4 linked regions of the Homo sapiens genome follow. The protein of the gene in region 4 interacts with the protein of the main gene of each other region in a pairwise test. Each region holds a gene or a part of one and is shown on either strand. Other genes may lie near its edges.

Evidence for each region. The genes of interacting proteins can lie anywhere in the genome.
Region 1: the proteins of NDFIP1 (region 4) and CCR2 interact in a two-hybrid assay, tested with the Homo sapiens proteins (one large-scale study listed by BioGRID and IntAct).
Region 2: the proteins of NDFIP1 (region 4) and BDKRB1 interact in a two-hybrid assay, tested with the Homo sapiens proteins (one large-scale study listed by BioGRID and IntAct).
Region 3: the proteins of NDFIP1 (region 4) and SMO interact in a two-hybrid assay, tested with the Homo sapiens proteins (one large-scale study listed by BioGRID and IntAct).

The regions. Positions count from the first base shown.
Region 1 is NC_000003.12:46,359,276-46,361,440, reverse strand, and holds the end of CCR2 (C-C chemokine receptor type 2), read right to left. Parts: 3' UTR 1,765-2,165; coding exon of another isoform or gene 1,581-1,764; 3' UTR 501-1,580; downstream 1-500. UniProt on the Homo sapiens protein: Key functional receptor for CCL2 but can also bind CCL7, and CCL12. Also transduces signaling mediated by CCL13.
Region 2 is NC_000014.9:96,262,237-96,265,263, forward strand, and holds the end of BDKRB1 (B1 bradykinin receptor), read left to right. Parts: exon of another isoform or gene 1-375; intron 376-415; 5' UTR 416-534; intron 535-1,436; 5' UTR 1,437-1,446; coding exon 1,447-2,508; 3' UTR 2,509-2,527; downstream 2,528-3,027. UniProt on the Homo sapiens protein: This is a receptor for bradykinin. Could be a factor in chronic pain and inflammation.
Region 3 is NC_000007.14:129,209,133-129,212,632, reverse strand, and holds part of SMO (protein smoothened precursor), read right to left. Parts: intron 3,345-3,500; coding exon 3,236-3,344; intron 2,271-3,235; coding exon 2,085-2,270; intron 1,669-2,084; coding exon 1,520-1,668; intron 998-1,519; coding exon 863-997; intron 610-862; coding exon 182-609; 3' UTR 1-181. UniProt on the Homo sapiens protein: G protein-coupled receptor which associates with the patched protein (PTCH) to transduce hedgehog protein signaling. Binding of sonic hedgehog (SHH) to its receptor patched prevents inhibition of smoothened (SMO) by patched.
Region 4 is NC_000005.10:142,115,279-142,118,778, reverse strand, and holds part of NDFIP1 (NEDD4 family-interacting protein 1), read right to left. Parts: intron 1-3,500. UniProt on the Homo sapiens protein: Activates HECT domain-containing E3 ubiquitin-protein ligases, including NEDD4 and ITCH, and consequently modulates the stability of their targets. As a result, controls many cellular processes.

The sequences.
Region 1 (2,165 bases), on a different chromosome or scaffold from region 4:
GTTTCCAACCCAGTCTGGCATAGGTAGACCCTCCGGGATGCTTGTCATATTGAATTCCATGATTGAAAATAAATGGATAGTTTTCCAGATTCTATATATGAAGTCACTATATACCACATGTCTTAATCGGTTTTTGTGCTTCTTAACAAACAACCCCTAAAACTCAGTGGCTTATCACAGCAAACACAGACTTCTTGCTCATGTTATATGTGGCTGCAGCTCCCTGTGTCTTCTCATTCACCAGGGCGCACGGGCTGACGGGTGTGATCTGGAATGGGCCTTCCTGTGGCTGAGCAAGAGGCTCCGCTTGGATGAGGCAGATGTCACTTCTGCTCACATTCCAGCAGCAGAGCCAGTGGTGGAGGGCGTGGGGTGTGTGGCCTGTAGGGCGCACTGCAAGTCACACCACAAGGGCAGGTGTGTGTAATCACACAGGGGAAGAAGTGAAAAGTTGTGAACACAACACAATCTTCCACACCACAGTGTAAAAAAACAGCCAGTTGTTTTTAAATCTTTTATCAACATAGTTATAGCATTGATTTATTTTCCAAATCATAGTTGTTAAAAACAGTATTTACATTTCATCACCATCAACTTAACATTTTATGCATTCATTAGGATCATACAAATATATGAAGGTGAAAGTTCTGCTCTGTCCCCACTTCTTTCTGAAACCTTCTTTAGCCATGTGGCCTGAAAGTAGAGCCATAGTCCAGCTTGGGAGTCTAGTTCCCAAGTTGCCTGGTTCTAGAAGCCCAGTGTTTCTTGCTTGCATCAGATCAGAAACACACTGGGCAACATAAGAACATTCTTAACTTGGCTCGACTAAGAGGAAAGTCTTTGCTTACTTCAGGGAGCTTCTCCACCTTCCATTCTTTACCAATAGGGTTTAAAAGCTTTGATTAGAAGCCAACTTGATTTAGGAGTTCCCACTGGCAAAATAGGGAACAATATGAGCATCAAGGACATCTGCGAAGCACTGAAACACTCGAATGTGATTAAACGCATGACTTCATAATGATACAAAACAAAACACAAAAGGCTTTTGGCAGCAAGCCTGAGAGAATGGAGATCCAGCTGAGATGACAGCGATGGAGCGTATACTGTGATTCAAACGACATCATTACTTAGATGCTGCATGCACATAGGCTAATGTGCCCACAGATCACACACTTCCAACTCCTGCCAATCAACAACTATTGGGTTGACTCAGCAGTCTCCCAAACATACCACCTGCTCAAAATTCTTAAGCTCAAAGCTAGAATTATCTCTGTGACTAATACAGCATTTTCACGTTTGACATGATAGTAACTCAAACTAACTCTTTACCACATTTACAAGTTGCAGTTTTCAGCTTTAATTTTATTTTTACTATTTAAAAAAAGTCTGAACTCTATGCCTGTATTCAAAAATGAGGAACTGGAAGGTAGTTTGGAAAATACTGTTTTCCAACCCAGCTGGAGTCTCTCTCCTCTCAGCCTTCCTGCCTGGTAACGTAGACACCAAGATTCACACTGTGAATCACACATCTGTGAAGCCAGACGTGTGATTTCCAAAGCAGAGATCTGTCATTTCTGTCTCTAGGCTCCTTCTTTGTCCTGAAGACTGGCTTCAGGGGCTCTGCCAATTGACTTTCCTTTTCCACGACCATCGAGGAGTCCTTGTGTAGTCACTTTCACATTCTTTCCTGGTCTCACTCCTGGACCTCCACACACTGGTTTTTGGAGTGGGGCAATCCTACAGCCAAGAGCTATGTGAAAAAGGCTGTGGGGAAAAGAGAAGAGTGAGGGGAGTGGCAAGGCAGGGAAAAGCAAGCACAAAACAAACCAGCTCAGATCCAGACAAGAAGCTTTACTGGGTTCTGATGCAGCCTTCCTGGCTCTCTCCACTTAGTTGATTTCGGAAATAGTTCTGCAGTGGTTCCACACGATCCCCGTCCTTTGCTCCTGGTGAAGGAACTCATCATTCTCCACCCCCTTCTCATAATCACTACCTCCTGGAGAGATCAAGCAAGAGCCTATATATATTGCATATACATATATTAGCATATCATAGATAATGCATCTTTTATAAACAAAAATTTTCTGAATTTTTAGACAGGGGGATGTGGCCTAAGAAGCATCTGAACAATGGAGCATGATATTTCATAGATTTCAAATGTAAGG
Region 2 (3,027 bases), on a different chromosome or scaffold from region 4:
CCTGGCTTTGTCATTCATCGCGTGGGGACAGGTGCAGCAGAAGAGAGCAGACAGAAGCACAGGATCTCAATCAGGCTCTTGAATCAGACTGCCTGGGTTTGAATCCAGGCCCTACTGACCAGCTGTGTGACCTCAGACAGGCGACTCCGGGTCTCAGCACTCAATTTTCTAATTGGCCAACTGGAGATGACAATGGCCCCTACCTTGAATGGCTGCCAGGAAGATTAAATGAGAAAATACTTAAATGTGAAACACTTAGAATGGCGCCTGGAACACAGACCATTAATACCATCTAACAGATGTTAGTTGTTATCCTTATTTATTACTCATGCTTTCCTTTCTCTTTTTTCTTTTCTCTCTCTCTCTCTCCTTTTTTTTTTTTTTTTTTTTGTTGTTGTTGTTGTTGTTGAGACAGGGTCTCAGTCCGTCGGCCCAGACTGAAGTGCAGTGGCACAATCATAGCTCGCTGCAGCCTCGACCTTCCAGGCTTAAACGATTCTCCCACCTCAGCCTCTCGAGTTGCTGGGACCACAGGTATGCACCACCATGCCCAGCTAATTTTTGTATTTTTTGTAAAGACAGGATTTCACCATGTTGCCCAGGCTGGTCTTGAACTCCTGGGTTCATCTGATCCATCTGCCTTGGCCTCCCAAAGTACTGAGATTACAGGTGTGAACCACCACACCCGGCCAATACTCATGTTTTTCAAGCCTGTAAGAGGAACCTCCTAGCACTGTCCCCACCCCGGCCACCACACTGGTCCCAGCCCCAACAGGTCAGCTTCCTTTGCTGTTCCCGGGCTTCCCTCAGCTCTATCTCAAGCCATGACCTCTGCCTCCATGTCTGCAGCCCCATGAGGCTGGGGCTGCTCTGTCCTGCATATCTCCAGTGCCTGGCAAGGGGCTGGCAAGAGGTAGAGGCTCATTAAATGCCTGTTAAAACCCTAATAGTAATAATAATAATGGTACAGTTGTTACTAAGACTAATCACTACCTTCCAAAGTCTTTCCTCTATGCAAGGCACGGAGCTAAGCACCCTGTAGATCCTGACAACAGCCCTCCCGTGATCCCACAAGAGAGACACGATTCTCTCCAATGTTTAAAAAGGAAAGTAAAAGTCAATGGTTCTAAGTAGCTCACACTGAGTGATTGTACCGGGATTTGGACTCAGGCACCATCCCTTAAACCAGAGGTCAGCAAACTTTTCCCCCTCAGGAACAGATGGTAAATATCTTCAGCTTTGCAAGCCAGACAGTCTCTGTTACAAGCGCTCGACTCCCCCTTGTAGCATGAACACAGCTGTAGATAATACGTCCAGGAATGGGTGTGGCTCTGTGCCAATAAAACTTTATTGTCCAAAAACAGGTGACAGGTTGGTTTGGCTCATAGGCTGTAGTCTGCCACTTCCTGTTTTATTCTACCTTCTGTTCATTTCAGGTCACTGTGCATGGCATCATCCTGGCCCCCTCTAGAGCTCCAATCCTCCAACCAGAGCCAGCTCTTCCCTCAAAATGCTACGGCCTGTGACAATGCTCCAGAAGCCTGGGACCTGCTGCACAGAGTGCTGCCAACATTTATCATCTCCATCTGTTTCTTCGGCCTCCTAGGGAACCTTTTTGTCCTGTTGGTCTTCCTCCTGCCCCGGCGGCAACTGAACGTGGCAGAAATCTACCTGGCCAACCTGGCAGCCTCTGATCTGGTGTTTGTCTTGGGCTTGCCCTTCTGGGCAGAGAATATCTGGAACCAGTTTAACTGGCCTTTCGGAGCCCTCCTCTGCCGTGTCATCAACGGGGTCATCAAGGCCAATTTGTTCATCAGCATCTTCCTGGTGGTGGCCATCAGCCAGGACCGCTACCGCGTGCTGGTGCACCCTATGGCCAGCCGGAGGCAGCAGCGGCGGAGGCAGGCCCGGGTCACCTGCGTGCTCATCTGGGTTGTGGGGGGCCTCTTGAGCATCCCCACATTCCTGCTGCGATCCATCCAAGCCGTCCCAGATCTGAACATCACCGCCTGCATCCTGCTCCTCCCCCATGAGGCCTGGCACTTTGCAAGGATTGTGGAGTTAAATATTCTGGGTTTCCTCCTACCACTGGCTGCGATCGTCTTCTTCAACTACCACATCCTGGCCTCCCTGCGAACGCGGGAGGAGGTCAGCAGGACAAGGTGCGGGGGCCGCAAGGATAGCAAGACCACAGCGCTGATCCTCACGCTCGTGGTTGCCTTCCTGGTCTGCTGGGCCCCTTACCACTTCTTTGCCTTCCTGGAATTCTTATTCCAGGTGCAAGCAGTCCGAGGCTGCTTTTGGGAGGACTTCATTGACCTGGGCCTGCAATTGGCCAACTTCTTTGCCTTCACTAACAGCTCCCTGAATCCAGTAATTTATGTCTTTGTGGGCCGGCTCTTCAGGACCAAGGTCTGGGAACTTTATAAACAATGCACCCCTAAAAGTCTTGCTCCAATATCTTCATCCCATAGGAAAGAAATCTTCCAACTTTTCTGGCGGAATTAAAACAGCATTGAACCAAGAAGCTTGGCTTTCTTATCAATTCTTTGTGACATAATAAATGCTATTGTGATAGGCTAAATGATTACTCCCGTAGATTGGGGGGTACCTAATCCCTGGACTTGATGAATGTTACCAAATTAAGGGTCTTGAGATGGGGAGATGATCCTGAATTATCCAAGTGGGCCCTATATAATCACAAGGGTCCTTATAGGAGGGAGGCAGGAGGCTCAGAGTCAGGAGATGTGACTATGGAAGCAGAGGCCAGAGGAATTCAGGACGGCCACTACGAGCCAAGGATTGCAGGCACCCTCTAGAGGCTGTAAAGGGCAAGGAAATGGCTTCTCCCCTGGAGCCTCCAGAAGGAATGGGTCCTGCCAACTCCCTGTCTTCAGCCCAGGGAAACAGATTTAGGATTTCTGGCCTCCAGAACTGTTAGAGGATACATTTGTGTTTTGTTTTGCTTTGTTTGCTTTGCTTTGCTTTGCTTTTTTGAGATGGGGTCTCGCTCTGTCACCCAGGCTG
Region 3 (3,500 bases), on a different chromosome or scaffold from region 4:
ATGTTAGGCTCTTTCCCACAGTCCTGCTGCTTTGAGCCAGACATCCAGAACTCTCTTCGGAGGGCAGTCAGCCCACAGGTTCTCTGGAAGACGGGATCCTAGGGAAGCATGCTCGGTGAGGAAGAAGAGCCTTGAAGGTATTGGTTCCTCTCTTTCCTGTCCCAGGTCCTGCTCTGCAGGCTCAGAAGTCCGAGTCTGCATCCATGAGTTCTGTGTCCATCAGGTTGGTGCGGGAGTGAATAGGCCCCAGGCCCTGTCGGCGGCCATGAGCCCATGCCACGGGGGCCGGTGCACTGGGCAGAAATGGATCCTGAGGGGGACTGGGCTCTGGGCAGAATGGGTTGGAGACCAGGGTCCACGCTCCCTGTCGGCAAGAGTCCCCAGCTCCCCAGGCACCTGCAGCCACCAGGCATTTCTGCCGGGGCAGCTGAGGCAGTCGAGGAATGGTACTGGGGGCAGGGGCAGGGGGGTGAAGCTCAGGGGGCGGCGCCAGCGGGCACACCTCCTTCTTCCTCTTCCTCCTCTTCTTCTTCCGGCCCAGGCGCTTCTGCAGCTCTGGGGAGATCTCTGCCTCAACCAGCCACAGGTTGGCTTGTTCCTCTGGGGGCACTGACAGGAGGAGAGACAACACGAGCCTGGGGCCCTGGCTCTGTCCATGCCACCCCCGCTCCCCTGGGAGCACTTAACCTGTTAGTTCTGGGGCCCAGGTCTCTAGACTCTTAGAGCCTCAGCCCCACTCTTCAGATCCTCTGGGGCCTTTCCTTCCTCTTCCTCCTCCTCCGACAGCCCCTGTACTCCAGTCCCAGAAGCCCCCAGCCTCTGTGCTCCCCCCACCTTCCTCCAGAAGCTTGAACTCTCATACCTGGAGTTGCCACAGGGGTGACAGAAATATCCTGGGGCAGTATGGCTCCTCTCCGAGCCACCATCTTGGTGACATGCTGGGCCCAGGCAGAGGAGACATCAGCTGAGGGCTCATTGAGGTCAAAGGCCAAGCCCGCTGTGGGAATGGAAGGAAGGAAAGGAGAAGGAATAGTGACTTCCCGGTCCCTGGCAGTGCCTCCCATAGTCAGTGCCATTCATCTTCCCACAGCCAGTCCCTCCTGCTCACCAGAGAAAGCTCACCCTGTAACCACGGTGATCTCTACCCCTTCAGAATCTGAAGAGAAGGGCCTCACGTCCCCAAAGGGCCTAACTGGAGGCCAGAAATCCAGTTCTTGGAACCCTGACTTACTCTTGCCCAGGGAGAGCAACTGGAGAATTTATGAGAAGGGAGAGGGAGGGGAGTCTTCTTGGAACCCAAGCACCGGCAAGCAGACCCAGGGGCAGAAACAGAGAGGGGAGAGCCCCCCAGAGGGTAGGAGGGGCCGGGGGAAGAATGGGTGTGTGAGCGATGGAGGGAGCGCCTTGCTCCTCACAGTCGGTCTTCCAAATAATCTGTGTGCCCCCAGCAGGCTGGGAGAGACTAGCACATGGGCAGCGCGGGGCCAGGCGGCTCCGGTAGAGGAGGGGTGAGGCTCACCCACGGGCCCGTCGTGGGACACAGTGTGCATGCTGAAGGACAGCTCCTGGCCTGGGTTCTGCAGGAGCTCGTGCCGCTTAGAGAAGGCCTTGGCAATCATCTTGCTCTTCTTGATCCGCTTTGGCTCATCGTCACTCTGCCCAGTCAACCTGAGAGCAGAAGGGATAGGGAAGGAGCGTGAAGAAGCTGCCACTTCCCATCAAATCTTGGGAAGGGCCAGCGATGCCATTCTTTCCAGAGAAGGAGGCTCCCAAGGGCCTCAAGTCCTTCAAGGACTCAGGAGTAGAGGCCTTCTCTGCAAAGAAGTGGGGCCAGAATGCAGAGCTCCTGTGTGCCCAGCCCTCCAATCACTCCGCTCTTAAAAGGTGATGGCAGCTGGCTCTGCCCTTGGCCCAGGCCCAGGCCCAGGCATCAGGCCACCCAAGGACAGAAGGTGCCACCAGGGGGCAGCGGTGAACCACTGACCAAGGCTGTGCTAGAGGCAGGACCCGACAAAACCTAAAGATGGGGTCCCAAGGCTGAGGGTGAGGCGGGCAGGGCAGGAGGGGCTGGCTGCCATGCCCACCTGCACCAGGTACGCCTCCAGATGAGCAGCGTGGCCTTGGTCCAGACCCAGGTGCTCATGGCGATGCCAGTTCCAAACATGGCAAACAGGTTGATCTTCTCCACCAGAAGGCTCGGGCGATTCTTGATCTCACAGTCAGGGATGGGCTGCTTGGTGGGCAGCCCGATGGTCACATTGGCCTGACATCTACAGTGAGGGAACGTAGACAGGTGAGGCTTTCCTTTCTTTTCCTCTCTCTTTTTTTGAGATAGGATCTTGCTCTGTCACCCAGGCTAGAGTGCGGTGGCGTGATCACAACCCACTGCAGCTTCCAACTCCTGGGCTCAGGCAATCTCCTGCTTCAGCCTCCCAAGTAGCTGGGACTACAGGTGGGGTTTTCTGAGTCTACTGGGTAGACTCAGACAATCAATCCAAAAACTTTAGAAAGGGCTAAGCTCCACAGCACTGATCTCAACCCTGGGTGCTCATTAGAATCAACTGGGGAGCTTTTAATAGCTACTGATGCCTGGGACCCACCCTAGACAATTAAATTGAATCTCTGGGGCAGAGACTCAGGCATCACTGTGGTTTAAAGCATCCCAGACTGGAAGCCGGAACCTTTACGGAAGAGCCTGAAGCAGTCAGGGCTTGGACTAGCATCCATTTTAGCGACTGTCCTTGTAACAGTGGGTACTGCGCTTCTCTCAGCAGTAGCAATGTCTTACTCTCTCCAATCCATCCTCATTATGACACAAAAAAGCACAGGCAAAAACTAGCCAACATTAGCAGGTCATTAACCTATCACAGAGAGGTAACTAGTCCTGTGCCAGGATCTAAAGCAGGCTCTGCAGGAGAGCACACAGAATTAGAGGGCAACTTAGTGTCAGTCAGAGAAGACGAAGCTGAACTGGCTGCTTAACAGTCACACATGCACCAGCTGGGCAACCAAGGGGGTGGAGAGGGAAGGGCAGAGGTGAGAAGGGATGCGAAGGTTGTTTGCCACGTTTGAGAAACTACGGAGACTGATGCCTTATGCACCCAGACACCATCCATTGAATCTGCTGTCTGCAGCAGGGACCTGGCAAATCCCTGCTGCCCGGTGGGTGGAGGTGGGTGTCTTTATGGCCTTGGCTCCAGCTCCCAGCACTGCCGCCTCCATGCCCCTCACTCACAGCACATAGTCCCGGAAGCTGCGCTCCCACTCAGCCTGGTTGAAGAAGTCGTAGAAGTGGCAGCTGAAGGTAATGAGCACAAAGCCAAAGGCCAGGAAGCCAAAAATGCCTGTGGAGGACAGGGGCAGGACAGGACGTTACCAAGCCCAGTCCCGCAGCAGCAGTGGGGAGGAGAGAGTCTGCCCCACTGGGCCTCAAAGTTCACCCAGCTGGGGCTGGGGTGAACTCATGCTGGGCTCAGTCCAAGAACTGCTTTCTCTAAAAT
Region 4 (3,500 bases):
CTATACAGATATAAATACTAAACAAATTATCAGAGCAGAGACAAATGCCCCATGCAGGAAATTCCAAATAATTCATGTCAATACTTGGCCCTCAGCGAGGTGTTACATAACTCCCCACTCCTTATGTGTGGACCATGCATAGTGACTTCCTTCCCAAGAGTAAGTATGGAAAGTGGGGTAAAACGTATCTTTACAGAAGAGAAACCTGAGAAACACTACCTCAGCCAGGTGATCAAGGTCAATGTCAACAATGATAAGTCATGTTGAAAGTGTGCATTCTTGATATGATGTGATGAGAACAGCACTTTACCTGTGGTCTTCCCCCAAATCCACAGCCCCAGTCTAATCATGAGAAAAACATCAAACAAACCCCAATTGAGGGACATTCTACAAAGACCTGACCAATACTCCTCAAAACTGTCAAGCTCATCAAAAACAAGGAAAGTTTGAGAAACTCACAGCCAAGAAGAGCCTAAGGAGACAGGACGACTAAATGTAACATTACCACATTATATCATCCTGGATCCTGGATGGGATCCTGGAACAGAAAAAGGACATTAGGTAAAAACTTAGAAAATCTGAACAAAGTACAGACTTTAATTGATAACAATGTACTAATATTGGTTCAATAATTGTGAAAACCGTACCATACTGATATAAGATGCTAATAGGGAAAGCTGGGCATAGGGCATATGGAAACTCTCTACTGTCTTCTCAGTGTTTCTGAAAAATTAAAAATGTTTCAGCTGGGTGTGCTGGCGTGTGCCTGTGGTCCCAGCTACTTGGGAGGTCAGTGGGGGAATGATCGCTTGAGCCAAGGAGTTTGACGCCAGCCTGGGTAGCAACATAGCAGGAACCCATCTTAGGGGGAAAAAAGTTCCAAAAAGTAAAGTCTATTTGAAAGTACAGATTTATTTAAAAAACATTTAAAGCCAAGGAAAGGTTAAGAAGAAAGCCTGAAGATGGAGGGTTGCAGTGAGCCGAGACTATGTGGCTGCACTCCAGCCTGGGTGCAGAGTGAGGCCCTGTCTCAAAAAAAAAAAAAAAAAAGCCTGTAGAACACACACCAAACTTGAGGAGCAGTTACAGCTCTGCAAAGAGATAGGGAGGAAAGGGAAATCAAGTTTTTCTTTAGAAAGTTACTGTTTGAATCTAGCACATGAAGAATGTATTACTATTTAATACAAAATGCTTAATTTTAAATATCACATTTAAGCATCGAATGATAAAATGAAATCGGCCAGGCGCAGTGGCTCACACCTGTAATCCCAGCACTTTGGGAGATGGAGGCGGGTGGATCACGAGGTCAAGAGATCGAGACCATCTTGGCCAACATGGTGAAACCCCCTCTGCTAAAAATAGAAAAAATTAGCTGGGCGTGATAGCGGGCGCCTGTAGTCCCAGCTACTCAGGAGACTGAGGCAGGAGAATCACTTGAGCCCAGGAGGCGGAGGTTGCAGTGAGCTGAGATTTCGCCACTGCACTCCAGCCTGGCGACAGAGTGAGACTCCGTCTCAAAAAAAAAAAAAAAGCAAAAAAAGAAAATGAAATCATTATTAAACAGGCACCACTCCCTAAACCCTTATATCTCTATTCATAAATTGTCCAGTCTCCAGATAGACCTCCAAATTGTATTCAAGCCTTTGATTATGGTAAGTACTAATTAATATTGCTGAGATAAACTAATTTAAAAGACAAAAACAGAAAAATGGTCAAAGATTATGCTAAATTGCTCGGGGAGGGGGATAAGAAATATATTATACATATGGGCCGGGCACGGTGGCTCATGCCTGTAATCCCAGCACTTTGGGAGGCAGAGATGGGCAGATCACTTAAGGCCAGGAGTTCGAGACCAGCCTGGGCAACGTGGTGAAACCCCATCTCTACTAAAAATACAAAAATTAGCCAGGCGTGGTGGCATGCACCTGTAACACCAGCTACTTGGGAAGCTGAGGCACGAGAATCTCTTGAACCCAGGAGGCGGAGATTGCAGTGAGCAGAGCTCTCACCACTGCACTACAGCCTAGGTGACAGAACCAGACCCTGTCTCAAAAATAAATAAATAAATAAATAAAAAAGAAGAGGAGAGAAGAGAAAAGAAAAATACATATGAAGGTAGCCTGGGCATGGTGGCTCACACCTGTAATCTCTGTAAGCCAAGGTGGGTAGATCATTTGAAGTCAGGAGTTCGAGACTAGCCTGGCCAACATGGTGAAACCCCACCTCTACTAAAAATACAAAAATTAGCCGGGCCTGCTGGCGGGCACCTGTAGTCCCAGCTACTCCAGAGGCTGAGGCAGGAGAATGGCTTCAAACTGGAAGGCAGGGGTTGCAGTGTGCCAAGATTGCGCCACTGCACTCCAGCCTGGGGAACAGAGCAAGACTCTGTTGAAAGAAAGAAAGAAAGAGAGAGAGAGAGAGAGAGAAAGAAGGAAGGAAGGAAGGAAGGAAGGAAATAAATAAATAAATATACATATGAAGGGAACTGCATTAATAAGAAAATATTTCACTAGGAATGCTCTTAAACTTGATCAGTGCTAGTATTTAGGACATTTAATATAAATTATGTTATTCAGAAAAATCATGAGTAAGCCTTATTGTAACAGCAGGATGTGCTAAGTGATATCAAGTTACACTTGCTTTACTACCACTCTTGGTCAAGTTAACAAGACATATCATACAGTCATCCCTCAGTATCCACTGGGAATTGGTTCCAGGACTCCCCACAGATACCAAAATGGGAGGATGCACAAGCCTCTGACATAAAATGGTATAGTATTTACACATAACCTACCTCATGTACTTTAAATCATCTTTACTTATAACACTTAATACAATGTAAATGCTATGTAAAATAGCTGTTATAGTGTATATTTTACTTGCACTATTATTTATTATTGTATGGTTATTTTCCCCTATTTTCAATCTGCAGTTGGTTGAATCTGCGAATGTAGAACCTGTGGATACCCAGAGCCTACTCTAACTCATACCCCCACCTAGCCAACCACTAGAAGCAATTACCACTGGAAAGTATGTCAAGCCCAAAAAATTTCATACATGATGTTTGCCAGTTGCCTAGCTTATTGGCAACAATGACTTGAAAAAAAGATAAACCATCATGCCAATTTTCAGTATGAATGGAACAGAAGTATTAAAGTTGCTTTATCTAAATTGTCCATTATTATAAGAATATAGGCCGGGCGCAGTGGCTCACACCTGTAATCCCAGCACTTTGGGAGACCGAGGCGGGCAGATCACTTGAGGTCAGGAGTTCAAGACCAGCCTGGCCAACATGGTGAAACCCCATCTCTACGAAAAATACAAAAAATTAGCTGGGCGTGGTGGTGGGCACCTGTAATCCCAGCTACTCAGGAGGCTGAGGCAGGAGAATCGCTTGAACCTGGGAGGCGGAGGTTGCAGTGAGCCGAGATCGCGCCATTGCCTTCCAGCCTGAGCAAGAAGAAAGACACTCCATCTCAAAACAAACAAACAAAAAAGAA